2 linked regions of the Homo sapiens genome follow. The protein of the gene in region 1 purifies or fractionates together with the protein of each later gene. This does not show direct contact. Each region holds a gene or a part of one and is shown in the gene's direction. Other genes may lie near its edges.

What was found.
Region 2: the proteins of FCHSD1 (region 1) and SBK1 purify together in Homo sapiens (affinity purification with mass spectrometry, with the first as the bait; one study listed by BioGRID). This does not show direct contact.

Annotation. Positions count from the first base shown.
Region 1 is NC_000005.10:141,638,695-141,641,620, reverse strand, and holds the end of FCHSD1 (F-BAR and double SH3 domains protein 1), read left to right. Parts: intron 1-57; coding exon 58-123; 3' UTR 124-932; coding exon of another isoform or gene 933-950; 3' UTR 951-1,154; coding exon of another isoform or gene 1,155-1,701; 3' UTR 1,702-1,971; coding exon of another isoform or gene 1,972-2,157; 3' UTR 2,158-2,319; downstream 2,320-2,926. Other genes in the region: RELL2 (RELT-like protein 2), read right to left, coding at 1,155-1,701, 1,972-2,157, 2,600-2,666, 2,761-2,826.
Region 2 is NC_000016.10:28,319,716-28,323,524, forward strand, and holds part of SBK1 (serine/threonine-protein kinase SBK1), read left to right. Parts: intron 1-360; coding exon 361-1,206; 3' UTR 1,207-3,809. UniProt on the Homo sapiens protein: May be involved in signal-transduction pathways related to the control of brain development.

The DNA of each region.
Region 1 (2,926 bases):
TAGACAGGGATACCCTTAAGGGAGAACTCTGGAGCACTAACTGTGTGTTCCCTACAGATGCGTCCACCACCTCCCCCGCCGGCTAAAGCCCCGGATCCTGGCCACCCAGATCCCCTCACCTGAAGGCCAGGGAAGCCTTGACCCCCAGTGATGCTGCTGTCCCTATCTTCAAGCTGTCAGACCACACCATCAATGATCCAGAGCAACACAGCCAAAAGCTGGAATCGCCCTTATTTCCACCCTCACCTCCAAGGGTGGAAACTTGCCCCTTCCCATTTCTAGAGCTGGAACCCACTCCTTTTTTTCCCATTGTTCTATCATCTCTAGGACCGGAACTACCTTCTCTTCTGTCATGACCCTATCTAGGGTGGTGAAATGCCTGAAATCTCTGGGGCTGGAAACCATCCATCAAGGTCTCTAGTAGTTCTGGCCCACCTCTTTCCCCACCCTGGCTCCATGACCCACCCCACTCTGGATGCCAGGGTCACTGGGGTTGGGCTGGGGAGAGGAACAGGCCTTGGGAATCAGGAGCTGGAGCCAGGATGCGAAGCAGCTGTAATGGTCTGAGCGGATTTATTGACAATGAATAAAGGGCACGAAGGCCAGGCCAGGGCCTGGGCCTCTTGTGCTAAGAGGGCAGGGGGCCTACGGTGCTATTGCTTTAGGGGCCCACCACGGGCAGGGGCCTGCTCCCAGCTGCCACGCTCTATCATATGGAGCGAGGTGTTGGGGAAGGCGGGGCAGGCAGCCTGTTGCAGGCAGGGGAAGGAGAAGAGACTGAGGGGCTGTGACCTCTCCTGAGGCCCCCAGCCTGAGACTGTGCAACTCCAGGTGGAAGTAGAGCTGGTCCCTCAGCTGGGGGGCAGTGCTGTCCAGTGGAGGGGAGGGCTTTCACGCCCACCCACCCCCTGGCCCTGCCAGCTGGTAGTCCATCAGCACAATGAAGGAGACTTGGAGAAGAGGAAGAATAACACTGTTGCTTCCTGTTCAAGCTGTGTCCAGCTTTTCCCCTGGGGCTCCAGGACCTTCCCTACCTCCACCACCAAACCAAGGGATTTATAGCAAAGGCTAAGCCTGCAGTTTACTCGGGGGGTTCAGGGAGCCGAAAGGCTTAAATAGTTTAAGTAGGTGATGGGAAGATGAGATTACCTCATTTAGGGCTCAGGCAGACTCACCTCACATACTCCCTGCTCCCTGTGGTAGAGACACCTGAGAGAAAGGGGAGGGGTCAACAATGAGAGACCAGGAGTAGGTCCTATCAGTGCCCCCCAGAGTAGAGAGCAATAAGAGCCCAGCCCAGTGCAGTCCCGGCTGTGTTTTCCTACCTGGTGATCAGAAGTGTCTGGTTTGCTTGGCTGCCCATTTGCCTCTTGAGTGGGCAGCCCTGGGCTTGGGCCCCTCCCTCCGGCCCTCAGTGTTGGCTCTGCAGAAGCTCTGGGGTTCCCTTCAAGTGCACGAGGGGTTAGGCTGCTGTCCCTGAGTCCTCCATTCTGTACTGGGGGGCTGGCTAGGACCTGGGGCTGTGGCCTCTCAGGGGGCAGCCTCTCCATGGCAGGCATCCCTGCCTTGGGCTGCCCTCCCCCAGACCCCTGACCACCCCCTGGGTCCTGTCCCCCACCAGAGCCCCAGCTCCTGTCTGTGGGGGAGCCATCACGGTGTTCGTGCAGTCCATAGCGCTTCTCAATGTGTGTCACCCGGAACCTGGGAGGGGAGGGAACACTGGGGTTTAGGACCACAACTCAGAGGCTGCTTGGCCCTCCCCTCTGACCAGGGACATCCTGAGTTTGGTGGCTACTTCCCTCTGGCCTAAGGTAGGGGAGGCCTTCTCAGATTGTGGGGCACATTGTGTAGCCTGACTTCTGCCGGAGCTCCCAGTCCAGGAGGAAAGAGCCAAGGCCCACTTTTGGGATCAGGTGCCTGATCACTGGGCCCCCTACCTCAGCCCCCCTTTCCCTGGAGCACCTGCCCCACCTGCCCACAGAGAACACAGTGGTCTCCCCTGTCCGGGGGCGGCTTTTTCCTTCCTTGGAGCGTCCCTGACGGACAAGTGGAGGCCTCTTGCTGCGGCTGCAATGGAGGCAAGGGGCTGCAGAGCCCAGGTGCACTGTGTGATGATGGGAGGGGGCTCCGTCCTGCAGGCTGGAGGTGGCATCCACACTGGACAGCAGGGAGGAGGGGAGTGAGGGTAACATTTCCATTTCCCTTCATGTTTTGTTTCTTACGTTCTTTCAGCATGCTCCTTAAAACCCCAGAAGCCCCAATTTCCCCAAGCCCCATTTTTTCTTGTCTTTATCTAATAAACTCAATATTAAGATGTTAGTGACCATATGTTCTTCCTCCCAGGGCTGTTTGCTAAAAAGAACACTGCTTAACCCAAAGGAGTGGCACTAGAGGTGAATGTTAGGCTTGATGATATCTAGATGAGAGAGATGGTTTGAAGGAATCGCGATTTCTACAAAACAACTTTCTTCCTATAAGTTAGCCAGCTTTGCCCTTCCCCCAACCCCATACATGCAAGGAGGCTGGGAGAGGATTGTGCTGGAGGAGAGGATACTCTCCAAGGCAAGCTAAGTCATGCTGGCCCTTGTTTCCAGCTCACCTGGACAGCTGCACTGTCCCTTCTCCTTCACTGTCCCCCAGCATCTCCTTCAAGGCCTCAGCATTGGCTGAGGGAAGAAGGAAAAGAGGGAGTCAGTGGAGGTGGAGGTCAGGGCAAGAGAAGGTTGGAGAAGAGGGAGCAAGGGGCTATGCTAGACCCACCTTCATTCTGGATGATGCAGCGAACAATCCTCTCTACTGTGTCCTCATTCATGTCATCGTCCTCAGCTGAAGGATGAAAGAGATTGGCAAGGAAGCAGGAATGAGTCAGCTTTGGGGGAATATTACCTGGTGGCTCCCATCATTTATTGCTTAGGACATACCCTTT
Region 2 (3,809 bases), on another chromosome or scaffold:
GGGAGCCCCGTTCTAGTTGGGGAAGACCGACGAGATAAGTATCTAGCAGGCAGGGCAAAATGACAGCAGGTGGAGGGCGCCGCGGACCCCCTCATCAACCTCCTGGAGAGCCGCGTGTCCCTCCTGGAGCCCCGATGTCCCCATAGGAGAAGCAGGCATGGTAGCCACTATGAGGATTGGATGAGACAGCGGGGGAAAGGGCGCTCAGCAGCATCCGGGCCGCGTCTGCGCGGTCGCCCCAGTTACTGGGGACAGGGTGGGAGGCGAAAACCGCCTTGCTAGAGAGGGAGCTGGAGGGGAGGGCGGCGGGGCGGGCGCTGGAGAGCTGGAAACAGCGCGGCTTCCCCCGGCCGCCCGCAGGTGGGGCTCCCTGAGGACACGGTGAAGCGCTGTGTGCAGCAGCTGGGCCTGGCGCTGGACTTCATGCACGGGCGGCAGCTGGTGCACCGCGACATCAAGCCCGAGAACGTGCTGCTGTTCGACCGCGAGTGCCGCCGCGTAAAGCTGGCCGACTTCGGCATGACGCGCCGCGTGGGCTGCCGCGTCAAGCGCGTGAGCGGCACCATCCCTTACACGGCGCCTGAGGTGTGCCAGGCGGGCCGCGCCGACGGGCTGGCGGTGGACACGGGCGTGGACGTGTGGGCCTTCGGCGTGCTCATCTTCTGCGTGCTCACCGGCAACTTCCCGTGGGAGGCGGCGTCGGGCGCCGACGCCTTCTTCGAGGAGTTCGTGCGCTGGCAGCGGGGCCGCCTGCCGGGGCTGCCTTCGCAGTGGCGCCGCTTCACCGAGCCCGCGCTGCGCATGTTCCAGCGCTTACTGGCCCTGGAGCCCGAGCGCCGCGGCCCAGCCAAGGAGGTGTTCCGCTTCCTCAAGCACGAGCTCACGTCCGAGCTGCGCCGCCGGCCCTCGCACCGCGCGCGCAAGCCCCCCGGGGACCGCCCGCCCGCCGCCGGGCCACTGCGCCTCGAGGCGCCTGGGCCGCTCAAGCGGACGGTGCTGACCGAGAGCGGCAGCGGCTCCCGGCCCGCGCCCCCCGCCGTCGGGTCGGTGCCCTTGCCCGTGCCGGTGCCGGTGCCAGTGCCCGTGCCGGTGCCTGTGCCCGAGCCCGGCCTAGCTCCCCAGGGGCCCCCCGGCCGGACCGACGGCCGCGCGGACAAGAGCAAAGGGCAGGTGGTGCTGGCCACGGCCATCGAGATCTGCGTCTGAGTCGCCTCCGCCGCCCTCGGACCCGGGAGCAGCCCGGGCCCGCCCCGAGCCGGTGCCCGGTGCGGCGGTAGGGAATGGAGCCACCTCGCCGCGGGGCAGGGGGCGCAGCGGTAGACTAGGCAGGACGCGGCCCGGCACCTGGTCCGTCCCCGGCGGGCTGGTGAGGGGGCCACCAAAGACCCCTAGCGCGGCCTGGTGAGCGGGGGCTTGGCCCAGAGGAGCCAAGCCGCACAGACCCGAGAATTCGGAGGCCACCACACAACACACACACACACACACACACACACACACACACACACACACACACACACACACACGCCAGGAGCAAGGGAGCTTTCGGGCCACACTCCCAGACGCCTCCCTGAGCCCTGGAACCCGGACTCGTTGCTCCTGGCCTTCCATACCCCCTGGCAGATCATCCTGCGGTCCCACCCCAGATCCCCTCCTCCTCGCCATCCCATTCTGCCCCCTCCCCACCCTGGGTACAGAAAGGGACTGAAGTGTTGGGCAGAGAGGGGGCTTAAGGCCCCTGGGCACAGGCTGGGATCAGGGCAGTGAGCGAAGGGCAGCTGTGTCCTGCCCTCCCTTCTGGAGGCTGGAGGGGAGAGGCCAAGCCCTTGGAAAATGTAGCAAATGTCTGGATGTCGCATAAGTGCGTGTATGTGCGGGACAGGCCCCGAGAAGCTAGTGACTCCTGCACACCCCCATTGCACAAATGAAATCACAGCCCAGGAGGGAGGGTAGCTTGGCACTGGCTGAGAAATAGAGCTCTCTCCCCGCCCCTCCCCCTAACCACAAGGGATTGTCCTGACAACTTGTGGGGATAGAAGGGCTCACAGGGCAGGGGTCTCAGCTGCCCCCATCCTTAGGGCAGGGGAGTTAGTGTGGAGCCGAGAGCAGGTCCCAGCTCCCCCTGCCAGCCGCACTGTCCCAGGCCCAGGGACCTCTGCCGGGTCCTCCCAGCCCTTGCCACACAGCCTAGACGTAGTAGCCTGGGCTTCCAGCAGGTGGCGAGCTGGTTCGTGCTGGAAATTTCTCCTGGGTTTCTTGGGGTCAAACATGCCAACCTCCAAGACCCCATCCTCACGTCTCCCACTTTTCTGGCGCTGGAGTGTGCAGGGCGTAGGACCTGCATGTGTGGGTGTGAGAATGGGGGCGGTGGACACCAGGGGGCGAGTGTGTGACTAGGTGTGTGTGCACATGTGTAGGGTGCAGACGCATGGGTGCCATCCTTTGCGTTCAGTGACTGTGCGTCCAGACCCCTCACCAGCGGCCCCCCCACCACACCCTGGTCCTCCCAGGCAGCTGTCCCAGGGCGCCCAGGCCTGCCTTGCACCACAGCCCTCAGGAAATCCGGCAAGGAGGCCCCTGCAGGTTGGTTCAGGCCCCCAGGTAGCAAAACAGAGACAACAGCAGCCCCGCCTGACCCCCTGCCCCTCTCTGTGGAGGCCCGGGACCCCCGCAATAAGCACCACATGGGTGAGGCTGTCCCTGTCAGGGTCCCCTGCCAGGGTCCCTCCTGGGGTTCTGGGCCATTTGAGGGGCTCTTTGATGGGCCAGGCCGGCCAGAGTGAACTCCGAGCACTTTCTGGCTGGTGCCCCAACCTCTCCACTCCCCACTCATTCCCACCTTGAAAAAGGGCTATAGGTCCCCTGCCCTGCCCGGGTCCAGTTTACAAACAGTGTGGGGTGGCCCCAGGGCCTGGCCCCACTCTCCCTGCTGTGCCCACTCCTCTCCAGACTCCACCTCCCCAGTGGGTATGGGCCCTCCACATGCCAGGTAAGTAGCAAACCCCCACTCCCTCCAAGGACCAGGTCTCAGAGAAGGCCCTGGTCACTGCCCCCGGCCCACCTGGAGCCCATCGGGGCTGCCTCTCCCAGCCGCGACTTCTCCTTTTGCCTTAGGCCTCGCGACATCCTGATCTCTCCTGCAATAACTAGGAATCGAGATTCCACAGTAGACGTCCCTTGCCGTGCTCGCTCTCTCTCTCGCGCGCGCTCTCTCTCTCCCTCTCTCTCTCTCTCTCTCTCTCTCTCTCTCTCTCTCTCTCTCTCTCTCCTCTCTTTCTCTCTCTCCCTCTCTCTGTTAAGATCCTGTTCGGGAGTTTCCCCAGCCGTTGTAGTATCTAGTATGTTAGAGTTGGGAGGGGACCATAGTTATGTAGCCCAGCCCCCTCATTCCCAGAGGCACCCAGAGGGCCAGCCTCCAGCCTGACCCCAGAGCAGAACCGGAACACCAGGTTGGGGCCCTGGTGCTGCCACCTCCTCTGCTGGTCGGGCTGGGACCCTTTGCCCCTTAGGAGAGGTGTTGGTCACAGATGTTTACCTCAGTTTATGTCACTGTCGAAGAAACAAAAAATAATAGCAAAAAATAACACTGTAGACATGAAGACTTAGAAGACAAAAAAAAAAAAATCACACAAAAAATCTCCCTTGTTGCGATTCTTCTGTGAAGGTACAGTGTGTATGTGTGTATGTGTGTATGTGTGTGCGTGTCTCTGTCCCAGACCCTGTGTCCCCCACACTGCCCCCTGTCCTTCGGTGCTTCCCAGAGACCCCTCTGAGCTGGCCTGTGGGGCACGGGAAGCCCCCTGGATGGGAGG